Linked DNA regions of Homo sapiens. The protein of the gene in region 1 interacts with the protein of each later gene in a biochemical or structural test. Each region holds a gene or a part of one and is shown in the gene's direction. Other genes may lie near its edges. The genes, in order: SMURF2, SCN5A and TTC3.

Region 1 (2,918 bases):
TACCTTCTTCTCCCTCCTTTCTTTTGTTCCCTTCCCAAGAGCCTTTTCTGCGGGCTTCTCTGATTGTAGTGAGTGCCGCATGCTAGAGACCGTACGTGGTGATGCTCTGCCTTTGTTTTCTGGTCACCTTACTTTTAATTCTGTTGCACATTCCTGTAGGGAAGTCGTTCACTTCCATGTTCACATCTTGACCTGGTGAAACGTTTACCTGCCTGGGATGCCTCTCCCCTCTACTTTTCGTTCTTTCTCTTATTAGACAGAAGCAGCATGGGTCATGGAAACCATCTGTTCGGTCAGAGCATTTTAATTACTGCATGGCATCAGACCATTTGTTTACAACCATATTCCTTTTTTAAGAATGGTTTTCTGTGGAATAAGCTGGTTAATTTTGGGAGGAGCTGGTAATATTGCTAATGATTGTGGTGCTTCACTGGGTGGCAGTTGCTTCCTTTACCTCTTAAGCACTTCATTTTCAAAGCTGCTGGTGATGAATAAGGACACACAAAGCGACACTGGTACATAATTCGACAGTGCTGCCCACAGCGCATGCGCTGAAATCCCTGGGGGGAGAGCGTGCTTTCAGCTGTGCTGCCCTTCTCTGTAAGGAGAGCTCCTCATCCTCACACTTCCCAGATGCATAAAGTGAAGTTGTATTTCTGCTACATGTATTTATATGGGGTGCCTGTGCGAACTGAAATGGATTCTATAGACGGCTCTTTTGCTGTCAGCCCAGTTTGAGTCATGAAATCTAAATTTGCATCAGGTCGTCATCTTTTTGAATGTGTGCCTATGTATTTTACCTTGGATTTGCCTGATTACTTTTCTTCTCATGCTTTTGGGATATTGACTTTCTATAAAAGATAGAAATTGAGAAAGGGATTTCAATCTTGAGTTTTTTCTCAAATGGAAATGTGAACCTATTACGGAATCTAAGCCTTATCCAAGGTTAATTCTGGCTCTTAAAACCCAGATGCTTTTCCTGCTGCCCTTTGGTAGTATGTGTGGATTCATTAGCATTCCCCTATCCCCAGATCCTGTGGTTAACTTACCAGTTTTATTCTTAAGATTTTGGAGACTAATGCACGCACCTGCAGTGATTTCATCCACATTTCCTTCATTTGCAGGTGCTGCAGGCCCGAGACTCTTTACCATACACCAGATTGATGCCTGCACTAACAACCTGCCGAAAGCCCACACTTGGTAAGGTATTTTTGTAGCTGTATTCCCCATTCCATGTACATAAGTGTTAGTTCCAAACAGATTTGACTTTTTATTTATTGTACTTACTAGTGTTAAATGGGCCTTTAAAGGGAATGATAAGCAACTTAAGTGATTTAAAAGTTAAGATTATTCGGAAATTGGTAGGAAAACCCAAAAGTGGTCATCTCTGTTTTAGAGAAATACCTTTTAGTTTTCTGTGTGACACAGAGTGATGTGGCTATACTGGTATACACTTGCTAGGCCAGTTTACTTATTTTGAATGAACTGTATAAAATTTGATTTGCTTATTCACAGCTTCAATCGAATAGACATTCCACCCTATGAAAGCTATGAAAAGCTATATGAAAAGCTGCTAACAGCCATTGAAGAAACATGTGGATTTGCTGTGGAATGACAAGCTTCAAGGATTTACCCAGGACTCTATTTATACAACCCTGACTGACAGCCTCCTTTCAGCAGAGTTTCAAAGAATATGCTGAAATACAGGAAAACACTCCCCCCCCCCCCCTTTTTTTTTTTTTTTTTACATTTTAGGACACTGTGAGGGGAAAGGACAATTTTGAAATTCCTTTTCAAGGAAAAAAAAGGTCTTTATGCTTTGCCATGAGGCCACATTCAGCTGCTATTTAAACTTAATATCTTGAACCTAAAGAATGCTGACTTTTCCTACATTTCCAGAGTTAGGCAGTATTCTACACTTAAAGACTACTACTATTTTTATAAAAGGTAATCTATTCAAATTTCTTCACAGATTTCAAGTCTCTCAAACATCAAGACAACTTCAGCAGTCGGTACAAGTCACATTTCATTTTGATTGAATACATGATCTTGAACAGCTCCTGTACTTGCTCTTTGTAAAAAAAAATAAAATTATTTTGAATTATTCTACCTTTGTAAACAATTGGCTAAAAGAATCATCTTTAAGAAATTAAGCCATTTACATGTTTGTGTTTTTCTATAGCAGAGCATTATATTTTGCATTATATGTTTCAACCTAGTCTAAGTGGGTCTTTTTTACATTTTTCAAGAACGGATTTCCTGGAATACAGCGATATAATTTTGGTTGTCAAATTCCTAATGCAACCATTTAGTCTAAACTTAGTCATTTATTTGTGACAATAAGATGTGTTCAGGGGCTCCCTGTTTTTAAGAGACTCTTTTAAAAAAAAAAAAACCTAATGTTTTTATCTTGAGTCAATATGATTAGGTATTTTGGATTTACTTTTAATCTTAAAATACTGCATTTTTATAGCTTCTCAGAGCATGTGGATGGGATGGGATTTTCGTTATTTTGCTGGGTCAGCTTATCTTTAATATATGGACTATTCCTATAAACCAAAGTCTCTGACAAGTGCACCTAATTTATATTGTATTTTAACTACAGTGTAAGTTTCCATTAACAAAACCATCCTAAAGCGTTAACTGCTCATAATTTTAATCAGCTACAGTTATGAAAAAGGAAGAATTTTGCTCTAAAGATTATTAATAAGCTTAGAAAATCCTGCTTTTACCTAACAGAATGAAGTGGGGTTGAGGGGCGGTAGTATGAACAGTGATTCTAACTCTATGGCGTAAATTACTTTGAAGAGTTCATTTTGGAAGTAAGGGAATCCCGCTTCCCTTGGTGTTGAAGATCTGCATCTGATTTTGAAACGTCCAGATTTAGCTTTCAAGGTGCGTGCATGTTGAATGATCCA
Region 2 (3,655 bases), on another chromosome or scaffold:
CAGGCAAATGATTTTAGGGAGCCAGCCCTAAAGATGCAGAGGAACAGCGTTCAGGCAGAGGGAATAGCAAGTGCAAAGCCCCTGAGGAGGACACATCCAAGGGATGAGAGGGACTAACAGGGCCAGGTGTGGTGAAACATTAAAATGAATTTCATGAGTTAGGATTTGGACTGTGCAGGGCCTTCTAGACCATAGATAAGTTTGGATATACTGTGTGAGTAAGATGGGGAGGAGTAGGGTGGGAGGAGTTGTTGAACAGAGGAGTGACATTATCTGATTTACTTTTTAAAGGAATCCCTTTCTACTATGCAGAGAATACAGGGATGAGAAGAAGAAAAGAAGCCAGTTAGGAGGCTGTTGCAGTGGTTTTGGGAAAGAGAAGATGACTGCCTGGACTAGGATGGTGTATTAGTCAGCTATTATAATAATAATGCTGTGTAACAAACTACCCCAGAAGTCAATCTCTAGCAACAAGCCTTTATTCTCATGCTCACTTATCTGCAAGTTAACTACAACATGGCCCATGTAGGTTAGGCTTAGCTGGGAAGCCCTGCTCCAGACGGCATGCTGGCTGGGCTGGGCTCCATGCTGTGGGTTAGGCTCAGGGCTGCTCTGCATCTTTGTTCTGAGGCTTAGGCTGAAAAGGTGACAGCTATCTGGGGAAGCTCTTTTCATGGAGAATTCCTGGAGCACAAGAGCAAGATAAACAGCACTAGCCCAGTTGAGGTTTCTGTTCACAGCATGTCCACTAACATTCTGTTGTCCAAAGCAAGTCATTCATGCCCAGGGCAGGGAAGTTAATTCACCCTCGGTGGGAGGGGAAAGAGAGTGCATATGTGCCAAGTGATAACCAAACTATCATAGATGGCAAAGAAGGAGGGGAGAAGTTGGGAGAATTTAAAACTTGCTTGTGAGTTAAGCTGGCCAAATTCATGGTTGCGTTGGACCTAGGGTAGTACCATTGCACCAGCCACCTCAGCCCTCTCAGGTGCCTCCACTTGAATACTTCCATGACTGGGAGCTCACTACCTCCCTAGGCAACATTTCAGAGCAGTCCTACCAATGGCCGGGATGTCCTTAACTTGAGCCCAGATCTATTTGGTATCCACCCTATGCCCTGCTTCTTCTACCCTGGCTAATCTAGGCCCATCTTCCCTCTGCCCTATGAAGATTAGAGTCTTGCTATTGCATGCTGAACAGCTCAGCACCTGGGCCGTGGTCATGCAGGGCCCTGCTGAAGTGAAGGCTTTATTGGCCCTCCTTGGTTCTGTGGGAGGCTCCAGGTAAGCCTAGAGAATGCCTGCCTGCCACCTCCCTTCACCAGGGCTGTTTCCAGGCCTGGGTTTTTTACTGATAAAAATGGTGCATGCATGGTGAAAACAAACCCCACAGTGCAGAAGTACATGAAGTGAAAAGGGAACTTCTCCCTCTTTTTCCCCTCCCCCACAATCCCATTCCCCAGATATGTCCACTTTAATTATTTGGTATGCATTTTCCAGATCTTTTTCTTGTTTTTTCATCAAACTGTTTGTCTTGGAGATGTCCGCATGGGAGCATCCAAAGAACTGCCTCGTTCTCTTTGTTGTCTATCAGAGCCCAGAGTTGGACTGTGTCTATAATTGATTTGAATATGGTTGCTATTGATTGGTGTTTTGTTCTTATGGTATTAGGAACACTGCTGCAATGAACATCATTTATGTGTATTTTTGATGCACATGTGTAATTATTTATGAAGTTAGATTACTAGACGAGGACTTGAGGGCCAATTTAAAATTTTCTTGGTAAATCCAGCCTAACTGCCTCCACAAAAGACACAGCCCCCCACCAGCCATATGTAAGCATTGTACTTTATCCTGCTATTAGCATTATCTTAGAGCATGTTAGATTTTTTTTTCAGCTTCTTTATGCTCTTGACGCTAGGAAACTTGTGGTCAGTTAAGACTCCCAGATCATTTTTGCATGTACTAATGTGTATGGCAGCATCAGGCTCAGGGAGGACCTGTGATATGTGTAGCTTCCTGACCACACTCAGGAATCACTGCTGATGAGAGGCAGTGAAGAAGAAAGGAGAATGAAGGAGACAGTGATTGGGAGGAGGGGTGGAGGGAGTTCTTAACTGGGAGGGAGTTGGGAACAGAGAAGCCCAGCATCCAGTGTCCCATCAAGACCTTCATCCTATCCCTGTGGCATCCCCAGCCTGAGTCTGGACCGGCCTCCCCAGGTCCAGCAGGACAGGAGCTGGGGGCAGGACCCTTTTCCCCAGGCTGACGCAAATCTCCTGATTGCACTCAGACCACGCCATCGGAGGAGCCAGGCGGGCCCCAGATGCTGACCTCCCAGGCTCCGTGTGTAGATGGCTTCGAGGAGCCAGGAGCACGGCAGCGGGCCCTCAGCGCAGTCAGCGTCCTCACCAGCGCACTGGAAGGTCAGCAACCCCAGGTCATTTAAGCACCCCCCACTTCCGCTGCAGGTACCCTCATCTTTATCCCAGCCTGACCCAGGCATCCCCCATTTGTCTTGGCCTGCTTTAGACATCCCCACACTGTCCCAGCCTTCTCTGTTCTGTGTAGCCTTGCCTGTCCTTCCATGTCTTTTCATCTGTTTCAGCTTGTTCTCTCCTGGGTATCACCATGCCTGTGTTTCTCCCAAATACTCCCACATCTGGCCTGTCCCAGATGCTTGTCAGTCTCATTCCATCATCTCCCAACCATAACCATGTCTATCTAGGACCATCCTGTCCTGAGCATACCCATGCCTGTTCTAGCTATTCCCATATCTACTTCAGACTATTCCAGGCATCCTACATCTTTCCCAGCCATTCCTGCCCTAGGCAACTCCACATCCCTTCCAGTCTGAATGGGGCACCCCCCATCCTGATCTTGTTCCCTCCTATCTCGGATGTATTCTCATCTTTTCCAGCCTGTCCTTGGCATCCCCTCTCCCATTTGTCCTGACACATCCCAGATGTCCACATCTGTCCCTGCCCATTCTGTCCCAGGTGTCCTCGTGTCTGAACTTGCATGTCCCCATTACTGTCTCATCATTTTCAGCCTGTCCTCCCCTGAGTGTCCCCAGGTCTATGTGGGACTGTTGTCTTAAGCAGTTGTACGTTTGTCCTGATAATCTCTCCTGTCCCCATTTTCCCCACCTCCATCTTTGTTTCCTGTCCCTATGGACCTCTTCTCTCATATTTCCAGATTAAGGAGCCAGGACACAGGCCACCCACTCCCTTGGCCTTCCCTGCTCCCACTGTCCCGCTGTCACCTAGCAGCCCTGTCATCTCCCAGAGCAAGTCATAAATCTTTCCTGGAAGGTATTCCAGTTACATATGACTCAGTCAACAGAATCAAACTAACTCATTGGCTGTCCCCTCAGAGTTAGAGGAGTCTCGCCACAAGTGTCCACCATGCTGGAACCGTCTCGCCCAGCGCTACCTGATCTGGGAGTGCTGCCCGCTGTGGATGTCCATCAAGCAGGGAGTGAAGTTGGTGGTCATGGACCCGTTTACTGACCTCACCATCACTATGTGCATCGTACTCAACACACTCTTCATGGCGCTGGAGCACTACAACATGACAAGTGAATTCGAGGAGATGCTGCAGGTCGGAAACCTGGTAAGGGCTGCCTGCAGCTGGCTCTCAAATGGGCATCCTGG
Region 3 (3,655 bases), on another chromosome or scaffold:
AAAAAGATTTGGCCTCAGGCAGCTGCATGGGGAGGAGTGTCAGCACTGCAGGCGTGGACGGAGGCCTGAGAGCTGCCAGGAGAGCTGGCAGGGAAGAGGAGGCGGCCCCCTGGGATGGAGACAGCTCTGGGGAGTGTGGTGGCCATGATGTTCCATCTGTCAGCTACATGGTTTAGCTCAGAAGGGGAAAAGTGTAACCAGGTAGAGGCTGAAGGAGGGCCAGTAGGCAGGCAAAATGGTCTCATCTTACAGAGAAAATAGTGACTTATAGAGATAATTATTTAGAAGTCTGAGCCCTCCTACTCTTGTTCTAATAACTAACAAGTTATTGTCAAGAATTCTTTTAAAACGAAAATATTTAATTCATGGTATTCAGGTTTCCTGTGCACGGAGCCTCTGCGCTGCGTTACTGTATTTATTCATCGGCCTTTGTCCTTGGGCGTTTCATCCTTCAAGGGAAGCCCTAAGTGATCCATGGTGTGGTGTGTTCCTCACAGGTTCATCCCGAGTTACTCCCTGAGTCTTCAGGCGACGATGGCCAAGGGCTTGTGACTTCTGCAAGCGACGTGACTGGAAACCACGCAGCACTTCACAGGGATCCTAGTGTGTTCTCTGCTGGTGATTCCCCAGGGGAGGCTCCTTCTGCGCTGTTGCCAGGGCCACCCCCTGGTCAGCCTGAAGCCACTCAGCTGACAGGGCCAAAACGGGCTGGCCAGGCAGCTCTGTCAGAACGAAGCCCTGTGGCTGATCGGAAGCAGCCTGTTCCTCCAGGACGTGCTGCGCGTTCAAGCCAGTCTCCAAAAAAGCCGTTCAATAGTATTATTGAGCACCTGTCAGTGGTATTCCCATGTTACAACAGGTATGAACAGAAAATGTCTGTGACTGTGTTTAATACTTTATCGAACTGAGGTTTCCTGATTAGATAAAATCATGGCTAGTTAGGTGTTAACATGAAAAGGGTTGCATAATTGTTTTGCTCAGAAAGACAGTTGCTACATTTCTTTCTTTTTGTAAATATAGAGATAAGTATTTTCAAATAAATTGGTGGGTTTTTTCTTTCTTTTTTTTTTTTTTTTTGAGACAGAGTCTCACTCTGTTGCCTAGGCTGGAGTGCTGTGGCACAGTCTCGGCTCCCTGCAACCTCTCCCTCCCGAGTTCAAGCGATTCTCCTGCCTCAGCCTCCTGAGAAGCTGGGATTATAGGCATGCATGACTAAGCCTGGCTAATTTTTGTATTTTTAGTACAGGTGGGGTTTCACCATGTTGGCCAGGCTGGTCTCGAACTTCTGACCTCAAGTGATTCACCCGCCTTGGCCTCCCAAAGTGCTGGGGTTACAGGCATGAGACGCCACACCCAGCCTCAAATAAATTTTTTAATGTGCATATGTAAATTGAAAACATTGAGCACTGGGTAATATTCATCAGAACCCATGACAATTTGCTAAGATTTTGATGAGACCAATAGCACTGTCTAAAACTAGTGTTATAGTATCAATAAATGAACGCAAAACAATAATTTTGCATCATTTGGGGGGACAAAATTATATATAGCAAAGAAGGCAGCAGCAACTTAAACCTTGTTATATAAGACCTCTGATTTGTTAGAGTGTGAGGTTGAAGACTGGATGGAATTCCATAGTGAATGGGGCATGTGGACATGTTAACAAGGGGTCCTTGTGAATGTGGGAAAAAGCTGCCCTTACCTGAGTGAGCAAGAGCTGTAAATAGAGTTGGGATGATGGCAGGCTCTTCAGTAGCGTTTCTGCCTCCACCTCTGGTTTCCGCTGTTCAGGTTGTTACGAGGGGGACAGAGTTGCCTCTTGTCTCAGCTGTGAAAGATGATGAGGTAGAGGCGGTGTCTCTGAAGTGCAGCTCGGATCAAAGGACTCTATGCTCAGGAATGACCTTTGGCATGTGCCCTATTATTTCAGTTTCTGAGACAGTGTTAATTACAGGCTTCAAAATTGAAATTTGTAAACAATGGGGCAGTTAAAATATGATTAGCCAGCAGGCATGGTGGCTCACGCCAGGCCGAGGCAGGTGGATCACCTGAGGTCAGGAGTTCGGGACCAGCCTGACCAACATGGTGAAACCCCATCTCTTCTTAAAAAAAAATGGCAAAACTCGCTTGAACCTGAGAGGCAGAGGTTGCAGTGAGCAGGGATCGCGCCACTGCCCTCCAGCCTGGGCAACAGAGTGAGACACTGTCTCAAAAAAAAAAAAAAAGTTATGCTTTTTAGATAGTTATTGTTGTTATCAGTGGTCTTCAGATTAATTTTATGTGCATTTGTCTTTGTTTCTTTGGGTTGGGCTGTTGGATTAATATTGGCATGTAATATTTCTTAGCAGTAGAGAACTTTCTGTTGTCATTCATCACTCACTCTCCCTTTCAGCACTGAGCTTGCTGGTTTTATTAAAAAAGTGCGAAGCAAAAACAAGAACTCACTCTCAGGATTGAGTATTGATGAAATTGTCCAAAGAGTGACAGAACACATTCTAGATGAACAGAAAAAGAAAAAGGTATTTTATCTAGATGTTCCAGTTTATCCTTATTTATTTATAAAATATGAGAATTGTTAAAAAAAAAAAAAAGCTTCAAACCAAAACCTAGAGAGCAATGTACTAAAGACAGAAGATGGTCAAGTTGTTGGATAACTGGTTGCTTCCCTCTTGTCCCCTCCCCGCCACCCCTGTTATTTTCGCAGCCAAACCCAGGAAAGGACAAGAGGACTTATGAGCCCAGCTCTGCCACCCCCGTGACCAGGTCCTCCCAGGGCTCACCCTCGGTGGTTGTTGCACCATCACCCAAAACCAAGGGGCAGAAAGCAGAAGATGTCCCTGTGAGGATTGTATGTATAACTGTATAGTTTTGTTTTTTAATGAAAAACAAGAAGCAAACAAAATTTTTAATCCATGATTTAGCCCCATTCATTTCTAGACCTAATTTATTTGATCCCAACATTAGAAACTGAATTTCAATGTACTTGAATGTGTCCAGTTAGAGCAATCAGTGAATGGCCGAGGTCATGGTGTCTGCTGTGATACGTTTGGGCCCAGCATGGAGAGAAGCCCCTGCACATGAGTGACAAGGGCTCTGACCATCGTGGGGGATCTGAGCCTTCTCTCTCTTGCCCTTGTTTTGCTGCAGATGGTCAAGTACATGAACTTTGTACATCCAGTGTGGTATTTTGAACAGTTGGGGAAATCATTTTTGAATAATTTTCTTCTGTGTAACCATGGCTTTGGAATTACACAGATGTGTCAATGTGTCGTGTGGCCACACCCACCCCAAGATAGACCGTGATTGCCTGGAGAAGAGGGTTCTGTTTTTGCTTCATGATGGATGTTTGTAGTAACGAAGATATAAAAGCTGACTTACTGAAACTTCACCAGATTGTATGAGAAAGAAAAATATGTGTTCAAACTGGGACCTAATTTGATAACCATAGTTTGTTAAAATTAAAAGTATTAATTTTCAAATTACAAAGTATTACATACAATAGAAAATACAAATAAAAAGGGCATTTAAAAACCCGCCCTGTAATCAGTATTACCACTTTGGTATATATTTTTCTAAACTCTTGAATGCATGGATATGTGAATTAGTCAAAACTGAATACGCTAGTCACACTTTGTATGTTCTCTGAGGGGCTGAA

What was found.
Region 2: the proteins of SMURF2 (region 1) and SCN5A interact in a surface display test, tested with the Homo sapiens proteins (one large-scale study listed by IntAct).
Region 3: of the proteins of SMURF2 (region 1) and TTC3, one has a biochemical effect on the other in vitro, tested with the Homo sapiens proteins (one study listed by BioGRID).

Annotation. Positions count from the first base shown.
Region 1 is NC_000017.11:64,544,545-64,547,462, reverse strand, and holds part of SMURF2 (E3 ubiquitin-protein ligase SMURF2), read left to right. Parts: intron 1-1,124; coding exon 1,125-1,200; intron 1,201-1,515; coding exon 1,516-1,615; 3' UTR 1,616-2,918. UniProt on the Homo sapiens protein: E3 ubiquitin-protein ligase which accepts ubiquitin from an E2 ubiquitin-conjugating enzyme in the form of a thioester and then directly transfers the ubiquitin to targeted substrates.
Region 2 is NC_000003.12:38,597,688-38,601,342, reverse strand, and holds part of SCN5A (sodium channel protein type 5 subunit alpha), read left to right. Parts: intron 1-2,292; coding exon 2,293-2,425; intron 2,426-3,375; coding exon 3,376-3,614; coding exon of another isoform or gene 3,615-3,655. UniProt on the Homo sapiens protein: Pore-forming subunit of Nav1.5, a voltage-gated sodium (Nav) channel that directly mediates the depolarizing phase of action potentials in excitable membranes.
Region 3 is NC_000021.9:37,195,178-37,198,832, forward strand, and holds part of TTC3 (E3 ubiquitin-protein ligase TTC3), read left to right. Parts: intron 1-497; coding exon 498-859; intron 860-2,392; coding exon 2,393-2,519; intron 2,520-2,704; coding exon 2,705-2,848; intron 2,849-3,655. UniProt on the Homo sapiens protein: E3 ubiquitin-protein ligase which catalyzes the formation of 'Lys-48'-polyubiquitin chains. Mediates the ubiquitination and subsequent degradation of phosphorylated Akt (AKT1, AKT2 and AKT3) in the nucleus.